Linked DNA regions of Homo sapiens. The protein of the gene in region 1 interacts with the protein of each later gene in a pairwise test. Each region holds a gene or a part of one and is shown on either strand. Other genes may lie near its edges.

Region 1 (4,595 bases):
GCCCCGAGACCCTGGAGTGGGGAAGGGACCTGCCGTGGATCTCACATGGTTCCAAGCCTCACCTGGGCCTAGGTGCCCCCGTGCTCTGCGATGTCAGTATGGGCGGGGGTGACATTACCTGCCTCTGGGCTGTGATCCAGATGGGCACGCTGCCGTTGTCCCACCACCTCTGGATGCCCAGCGTGGCGTGGTAGGGCAGCTTCACCTTGCTGGTGGTGTTGTAGTACATGTTGTGAACCACCCCGTGGTTCTCGATATATTTGCCTGAGGGAGGAAGAGGTGCAGAGGGCGGCGGGATGGACCGGGGTCACAGCGAAGGCCGGACCCAGGGCTGGAAGAGGCGAAGTCAAAACAGCCCAGGTTTCCCTGTGTGCTGGGTGGGGAGTGGGCCTGGGGCAGGGCTGGGGGGAGCAGACTTCCTCCTGCACTGCCCCGTGGGAGCCAAGGTTCGAGGTCATGTCTGAGACAAATAGACACGTGTTCTTTGACCTGTTTTAGCAATCGCACTTCCACTTTCAGTTTGTCCCACAGCTGGACGGGCACACAGGCACGAATGCGTGTGCAGGGATCCTGGTGGCAGCCTTGTTTGCTTTAGCAAAAGATTGCGGGTGACCTCCACGGCCGTCAGGAAGGAACTCATTAAATAAATGATGGCCCAGCCATCAGACGAGATCCCAGGCAGGAATTTCAGTGAACTACGTGGAGCTCCAGGAGATTTTTTGAATTTATTTTTGTACAGGAAACACGTGCACATGGTACTAAGTCCAAAAGGTGCAAAAGGAGAGATGATGTGGAGAAGGTCCCTCCCGTCCTCATCTGCGATACAGAGAGCAAAAGAGGCGCTGCGCAGACGGGAGACCCGCACACCTCCGTTTGCGGTTAGAAGGGGCAGAAAGGCTGGTGTGGGGATGAGCTGCCTGTGTTGGGGTGGATGGTGTCCCACCACATTCATGCTCACTTGGAACCTTAGAACGTGGCCTTATTTAGAAATAGGGTCTTTGCAGATGTGATTAGCTAGGGTAAGGGGATGTATACCAGAGAAGTGTGGACCCGAAATTCAGCGACTGGTGTACTAGTGAGAAGAGGAAAGTTTGAATACAGACACACACACACAGGGGAAAGGCCCTGGGGAGACGTGGGGAGAGGTCGGAGTGATGCTGCCGCCAGCCCAGGAATGCCAAGGATTGCCGAGGCCCCAGGAGCCAGAAGAGGTGAGGAGGGAGCCTCTGCTGGAACCTTCCGGGTGGGTGCAGCCCTGCAATGCCCTGGGTTTGGCCTTCTGGCCTCCAGAAGCATGCGGATCCGTTTCTGTGGGTTTAAGCCAGTCTGCAGATCTTTGTTGCAGGCGCCCTGGGACACCCACGCAGGGTCTTTGGAGGATGACGCAGGTTTGGGAGGTGGCTGAGCCCCTAGGGAGGGCCAATTGCTTTTCAATTCTCTAACACCTTTTTTGTGGTACTTGGCTTTTTATTATTTTATTATTGTTTGTTTTTTTGACACAGGGTCTTGCTCTGTCACCCAGGCTGGAGTGCAGTGGTGTGATTGCAGCTCACTGCAGCCTCTACCTCCTGGACTCCAGCAATCCTCCTGCCTTGGCCTCATATATATATATATGTGTGTGTATATATATATATATATACATATATATATGTATATATATATGTATATATATATTATATGCAGTCTTGCTTTGTCACCCAGGCTGGAGTGCAGTGGTGCGATCTCAGCTCACTGCAACTTCCACCTCCTGGGTTCATGCAATTCTCCTGTCTCAGCCTCCCAAGTAGCTGGGATTACAAGCATGCACCATCATGCCTGGCTAATGTTTGTATTTTTAGTAGAGATGGGGTTTCGCCATGTTGGCCAGGCAGGTCTCGAACTCCTGACCTCCAGTGATCCGCCCGCCTCAGCCTCTCAAAGTGCTGGGATTACAGGCGTGGGCCACTGAGCCTGGCCCCATATTTGGCTTTTTAAAAACCTATGTCTGTATTGTCTACAGCCTGGGCAGATCTGTCAGGGAGGTGTTGGGTGGAAAATGGAAAGGATGGAAGGGAGAGGGAGAGGCTGACACAGCCAGCTGGAGGGGCGGGCAGGGGAGGGGAGCCATGGGAGCCAGCGGGGAGCCCGCCACACTCCCCTCCTCCTGAAGCCTTCTGGGGTTGCTGCCCTGGCTGTGGCCACGGGTTTAAGGACCCCCCTGGTCATTTTTCTTTGTCCCGGATCTGTTGCTACCAACGGTGAGGATTCCTAATGGTCCCCTTGGCTCTGTCCTGTGCCTGGAGCAAGGACCTCTCCCCTTTATCCTGCACGACACGGCTCTGTGCCATCTGGTTTCTCAGGCCCTCCCACCCCCAGGCCCCGTCACAGGGCAGTACTCACCGGTGACCAGGGTGAAGTGGCAGGGGCTGGTCATGGTGACAAAGGCGGGGGTCATGTAGCGTGCCTTCACCCCGTCTCGGGCCATGGCGTCCAGGTTGGGGGTGTCCACGTCCTGGTCGTAGTTCCAGCGGAAGCCGTCGAAGGACACCAGGAGCAGCTTGTTCTGGGAGCCCTGACTTTGTACCGGTGCTCCGGCCCCGGGAGCCAGGAGCGTGGCCAGAGCCACAGTGAGGAGGACGGCCGGGCCTCTCATGCTGGGCCTTCCAGATGGACAGGCACACAGGGTGCACAGGGCTGGCTCCTGCCGAGGAGGACAAAGTCCCAGGGTCACCCGGGCTGATCTCATCCCGTGCGCCTTTGGAATGTGGCTGTGCACATCCCCGGGTCGAACCTCGGGAGTGGGCTCCCCAGCCGTGTCAGTGCCACCCCTGGTCCCAGCCTCACGTGCGTGGGGTGGCATCAACTTGAGCATCTGCCTTTATTGCCAGCCGCGCCCTTGGTGCTCCAGGCTCCTCCCCTCCCTCCCCAGAGTGGGGACAGTGACCCAGGGCTCAGAGCACAGCAGGAGCCCATTCCACTGGGAAAGTCGTGCCCTCTCCCTCTCCCATAGCAACAGGTGGTCCCTCTGTCCCAGCTCACCCTGACCCCAGGGGACCCAGGTGAGGCTGGGGTGGGACCCCCTCTCCAGGCCTTTAGTGGTGCATGGGCCTCAGGCCTGCCTGGGTGAGGGCCTGTGGGGTGGGCTTCCCATGGTCAGGGCCAGGACCAAGCCTGGGTCACAGCATGGCCTTGTCCGGGGGGAACCCCAGGCTGGGTGCCTGTTCTCCTCCTGGTCCTGTTAAGGGGCTCCTTGAGCGTGGTGAGCAGACCGGGAACCGGATGGCTCCAGACCAGCGTCCTGTGGGCCTTCCTTCTTGGGATGCTTCCTTCTTGGGATGCTTCCTTCTTGGGAATTTCAGAGGGTGCCTGGGGCTCGGACGTTCTTGCTTGATGACAACAAGGGGTCAGAAGAGGGGGACTCCCTTGTTACCATAGGCACATGAAGGGTGGGAGAGGAACCCCTGGATTCAGTGTGCGGTTCTCCCTCCCTCTCCCCCATCTCTCCTTCCCCTTCTCTTATTTTCTCTCTCTTTCTCTGTCTCTCTCCCTCTTTCCTTCCCTGTATGTCTCTGTCTCAGTTCCTATTAAGCACGTTCTGTGTGCCAGGCATGGTTCTAGGTTCTGGGGACACAGAAGTGAATGAGACAGACAATGTTCCTCGTGGCCTCCATTCGAGTTGGGGACACAGAAGATAAAATGAACAAACAAGAAAAAAAGAGTTTCCCAAAAGAAGGGAAGGCAGGAAGACGTGATGGAGAGGCTGGCGGGGTGGGTGGGCGGCACGCAGTGGTGGCTGGTGGGGTTTCGCTGAGAGGATGGTGGAGGCCAGTGACTCTGGGGGACCATGAGCTAGGGGAGCGGGCATGGGGCAGGTGGCAGGGGTGGCAGGGCCAGTCCCGTAGGGCAGGTGGCGGTGATTCTCATGCCAGGCAGTGGAAGCCAGGCGGGGGTTTTAAGCAAGAGAGTGACATGAACTGATCTAATGCTAAAATATACTCTCCATTTGTGGGTGAAGGATAGACCAGAACGAGGGCAGAATGGACACTGGGTGCTCCCTGGAGAGGTGACTGCCTGTGTCTGAGCAAGAGCTATTGGTGGCCCGGACCAGGGTGGTGGCTGTGGGATGGGGCTGGGTTTGAGGCGGATCCTGGAGGTTTTGCTGGGAGGTGGTGCGCTGGATTGCATGGTGGGAGGTGGTGCACTGGATTGCGCGGTGGGAAGACGGAAGGGCATGGTTGGAGGTATTGTCACAATTTCAATCTGGAGCCACACACCTGCCGACAGTGGCCCCGGCCTTCCTTAAGACCTTTGGCTGGCTGCAGCAAGCAGACGCCGTCTCGAAGCGATGGCCGTGGCACTCAGATGACACCGCAGACGCCGTCCACAGCCTCCCCAGGCCAGCCAGCCTTTCCTAACCCAGGTGGGCAGGGACCACTGGTACGGATCCCCGGCTGCCCCTGCCTGGCCGACTGGAACACACTCTCAAGGAGGACTCCGTGCCAGTGACCCCTCTTCTTCATGCTTCTGTGCACCAAAAGCTGAAAACCAGGATGGAGCGACTGCCCGGTGCCTGCAACCACCGCGTGGGGTGCCTGCTCTGCAGGGCTGGGGCTCAG
Region 2 (4,471 bases), on another chromosome or scaffold:
TCCCGCCCTCTCTCCCATTCCTGGGTGTCGCCAGCCCCTCCTGCCACTTCCTCCTCCTCCTCTCCCTCAGAGAGGAGGTCACAGATCTGTTGCTGCAGCTCTGGGCTAATGCTGTTCTCAGCCAACACCAGGCTCCGCAAAGCTGTGGGGTAATTTTCTACCATGTCCAGCAGGGTCTGAAGTGGGGAAGAATATGGAAAAGGATGAACACAGTTAAGGCAGGTCCTCAGACCTCAACCTGCCATGCCTTAGGTATGTCATCAGACACATAAACTAACCTCCACCCCATCCCCTGGCCGTGCCCAAACATGACGACTTCCCACCTGAGCTGACTGGTTGGTGAGCCCTGTGCCCTCCAAGTCTAGGACCTCTAGGGTACGACTAGAGGCCACAGCTACAGCCAGCATTCCTGCCACATGGTCACCTGGGGAGACAACACACGTGCACACATTCATACACATGCCTGCTAATCCTTACAGATAGCTTCCCCATTGCCTTAACAACTTTAGATACTAATCCCTGGCCAAGGAAACATGGACAATTGGTGGTGGTCAGGAAGGGATCATTGTGATTGGTGAGTGAAGGCACGAAGCAAGTTAGGCCCACGGGTGGTGACTGATGTTTTGATCTATTTGTTGGTCACCTGGTCCGCCACAAAGCTATCTCCTTGACCCCTGGGGGCTCCCGTTTCTCTTCCCTCTCCCAGTGTACGGGTTACCATGTCAACTGATGGTCCCAGGCTCTTGGATAGGGCATGAGGCAGTGACAGCCCAAGGGGGTATTCTTGAGCCTCACCCAGGGGGTTGTAATCCAGATTGAGGACGCGGACCTGGGAGCTGTGGGCCACGGCAATGGCAAGGCGGCTCCAGCCCTTAGGGGTGATGCCAGGGTTGGCACTCAGCGTTAGCTCCTTCAAGCCTGGGCAGCATCATAGCAAGAAACCAGAATAGGGAGGGTTAAGCCCTCCTCCAGCCCTTCCCCACAATCCCTGTGTCTCTGGGGTGTCCCTAGTGGCTGGGCACCACCTTACCCCCACCATAGAGGTCAAGAGCCATTAAGGAGGCCCATGCTTCCTCTGCCTGCCCCAGCCTGGATTCCTGAGTCTCCATGCTGCCCCCCGTCCTGCCCCTTCCTGAGAGGAGTAGAAAGATGTTCTCGCCCACATCATCAGAGCTCTGGGGCCACACCCCCTTCCCTCTGCATTTCGATTTTCATCACTGCCACACTAGCCCAAGCCCTCAACAGGGTCCTGCTCACCAGATTTGGCCCCATCTGGGGGCAGGAGGCCACAGATGAGGTTGATGGCTTCATCACCCAGCATGCAGTCCCCCAGGTCCAGAGCCACGAGGGCAGGGTGGAGGGCCAGGGCTGGGTTCAGCAAGGCCAGCCCCGCATCTGTCAGGGGGCTCCCATGCAGGCTGGAGGAGAGTGAGAGAGCAGGGTTACTGCAGTCCTCCGCACTATCTACATGGGAAAGGGGCACTTTCACTTCTGTCAGCCCTAGGTATGGGGAGGGCAGTCACAGCGCTTGAGAGGCCTGGAAAAGGAGAAGGAAAGTTCTAGATTCTCAGGGAATACAGATAGAGGGAGAATTCGGTTTGTTTTCTGGGGCAGGGATCCAGGACATTGCACAGGGAGGGGCAGAGAAGGGGTGGGTGGGTGGTGGACCGGAACTCTGCAGTGGGCAGGGCTCTCGTCCCCACGGGGATATTCCCCCTTGGGAACCAAGGAGCTGCCCCAGTGAAGTAAATGCAGATGATTAGGTGGGGAGGTACGGCCCCCACCTCATGTCAGGAACTGGTGGGTATCCCAACACGGCTAGGGTCGCGCGTGCAAAGTCCAAGCATGTGCTTGGAGGGTGCTGTGAAGGCATGGGCCGAGGCACGGTGTATGTGCATAAGGCATGTGAAGGTAGGATGGTACTGGAAGGAGTGTGGAGGAACAGGAGGTGCCAGGGGAGTGTATGGAAGGGTGCAGTGCCCGGGACCCCCTTGCGAGGGGGCGCACTCACAAGAGGGACTGGATGGAGCGGTTGGTCCGCAGAGCCTCAGCCAGCTGCTTGATGCGGCTGGGGCTGGACACGACGCCCAGGTTAAGGTTGAGCTGCGCCAGGGACGTGGCCCCGGCCAGGGCCCGGCAGATGCGGCCAAAGTCGCGGTCGCAGAGGCGGCAGCCGCGCAGTGAGAGCAGGCGCACGGCGTTGTCGCGAAGGCCGCGGCAGATGTCCCGCACCTCGGCGCCGGACAGCGGCTCCCCCGAAATCTGGATGGAGCTGGGCAGCATCGTGCCCACGGCTGGGCCTCCGGGTACGGGGCCGGAACGGAGGTTGGTGGGGCCGCGGGCGGGGCCGGGGATAGGGCCGGGGTCGGGGCCCCGGCAGGGGTCGCGGGCGGAGTGGGGCCGGGGGTGGAGGCGGCGGCTGTGGCGGAGGCTGCGGCTGCGGCGGAGGCTGCGGCGGGGGCGGAGAAGAGCTACCGGGACTGAGCCGGAGCCGGCCAGAGGTGCGGAGGCGTCCAGGGCGCGGGCCGGGCTGAAGTGGGGCGGCGCTGGGGCGGGGGCGGCCCGCACGGTCCGTGTCTGGGCGTTGGGGCGGGTGCGCGTTCCGGGGGTTGGGCAGGCGCTGCTCGGCGCTTGTCCTTGTCCCTCGCGGTCGCGGCGGCGGCGGCGGCAGCGGCAGCGAGCGGCTCAAGGGCTTCGGCTTACCGGTCTCGGCTAGGAGGCCGTACCCGCTCCCTCCTTCTCTGCCGCCCGGCTCCCCCCGACCACCCCGCGGGCCTGGCCGCACGGCTGGCAGAGAGAGCCTGAGGCGGGCGGCTGGCGGCAGCTCCGGCTCCAGCTCCAGAGAGCGAGCGGGCGGCGAGTTCCCATGGCAACGGCCGCGTCACCGGCGCTCGCCCCGCCCCCTGCCCGGCCAAGGCCACGCCGGCCCGCGAGGTTCGCGTACACTGGGTGGTTCGGGGCAAGGAGCTGGGAGCGATAGGCCGCTCTTCCCTTGGGAGTGGGGTCAGCCAACTGGCAGGCGGCAGGCGGCAGGGCTGAGTGGGTAGGGCTGACGGGGAGCGGAATGGAGGCACGCCCCGTGGAGATGGCGTTGGGCACGGTTACTGCTGCTTCTGCCCATTCTTCCATCCTTCCCCGTTCCTAAGGTCCATACCCCCGCCGGAATCCAGGGCACTGTTCCCTCCTATTTGGAAGGCCCCAGGGCCCTTTCATCCGCGCCGCGCCTCGCTCCCGCCCCCGTGACTCGAGGCGCAGCGTGCGTGGTGATCCCGGCCCATGGGGACTTCCCCGCTTGCTCCTCGCCAAGATGGCGGCCTCATCAGGGAGGCCCCAGGGGCCACGGCTGGGCAGAGCCAGCTTGAGCTGCTGGGGAGAAGGGTACCCCATAGGGTCCCTAGGGCAGGGGAGCCTCAGATAGATGCAAGGTCCTGGTGCCACACCTTCTCAGGTACGCAGGGCACTGTTGACATCTGAGGGTGTGTCCGTGCCGCGAGACTGGGGCAGCCAATACAAAGAAGGTGCCAGGGCCAGGGCCCTGGAGCACTGGTGAGGACGTGAAGGCGGCTGAGCCACACTGCACGGTGCAGGCGGTGCTGTCTCAACTTTGTCCTCTGGCCAGGGTGGTGGGGGACTCACTTGTGTAACGCAGGACAAATGAAGGGCACCTCTGTTTGTCCCTTTGTTAGGAGGGATAGATGCTGCTGACCCAGATTTACTAGTGTTAAGATGATTATTTTACATAAAATATAATATTCAATATAGTGAAGGGAGGTCAAAGGCCCTATTCCCACTCTTAGCCACCTGAATTAACTTATTAAGTGGAGCATATTAAAGAGGTGGTGGGGGTGGATGGTGCTATGTTAGGAGTGGTGGTTGGTTTTAAGAGGAAAGACAGAAAAACTAAAAGGAGCTGGCCCCAGTACCACCAAGGCAAAGCCAAATTTGGCTTCAATTAAGAGCTCCACAGGAAAATTATCAACACAATGCCCAGGTGCAGAAGATCCTTGTTTTGACACGGGGTTTAAGTCGGGATGTTTTGTTCAATTGTCACTGCTTCCTTGGCTTCCCAAGAGAGCAGCTGAGCCCAGACTCAAGCTGGCTGCAGTGTTCCATCAGGCTTATGGCTTTTGTGCTTGAGGCCTCCCTGCCGCTTCATGGGTCAGGTGTGATATTCAATCACTGCCTTCTATGTAGTCTGGCCTGTCCCACCTTTATCTTGCCTGGGTGAGGATATGAAGAAGGGAACATATGACATTACCACTGTTGACTGAGTAGGAAAGTATATAGGAAGCGGGATGACAGGGAGGACCACTGGATCAGCCGCTGCAGTTCCAGACTTCAATCAACATTTTAATTACCAAGTCTATATTTAGCAAGACAATGTGGGAGAGATAAAGAGGAAGGAAGGGGTAGGTGGGGAGGGGTTCTCAAAGGAGCTGACCCATTTTCTGCATTGGCTGCAGAGCCTTGC

The links.
Region 2: the proteins of ENPP7 (region 1) and LRRC73 interact in binary tests that used the Homo sapiens proteins (3 or more experiments, as listed by UniProt).

The regions. Positions count from the first base shown.
Region 1 is NC_000017.11:79,729,177-79,733,771, reverse strand, and holds the start of ENPP7 (ectonucleotide pyrophosphatase/phosphodiesterase family member 7 precursor), read right to left. Parts: upstream 2,830-4,595; 5' UTR 2,726-2,829; coding exon of another isoform or gene 2,633-2,725; coding exon 2,380-2,632; intron 265-2,379; coding exon 119-264; intron 1-118. UniProt on the Homo sapiens protein: Choline-specific phosphodiesterase that hydrolyzes sphingomyelin releasing the ceramide and phosphocholine and therefore is involved in sphingomyelin digestion, ceramide formation, and fatty acid (FA) absorption in the gastrointestinal tract.
Region 2 is NC_000006.12:43,507,503-43,511,973, forward strand, and holds the start of LRRC73 (leucine-rich repeat-containing protein 73), read right to left. Parts: upstream 2,845-4,471; 5' UTR 2,284-2,844; coding exon 2,012-2,283; intron 1,419-2,011; coding exon 1,258-1,418; intron 919-1,257; coding exon 796-918; intron 425-795; coding exon 324-424; intron 177-323; coding exon 1-176.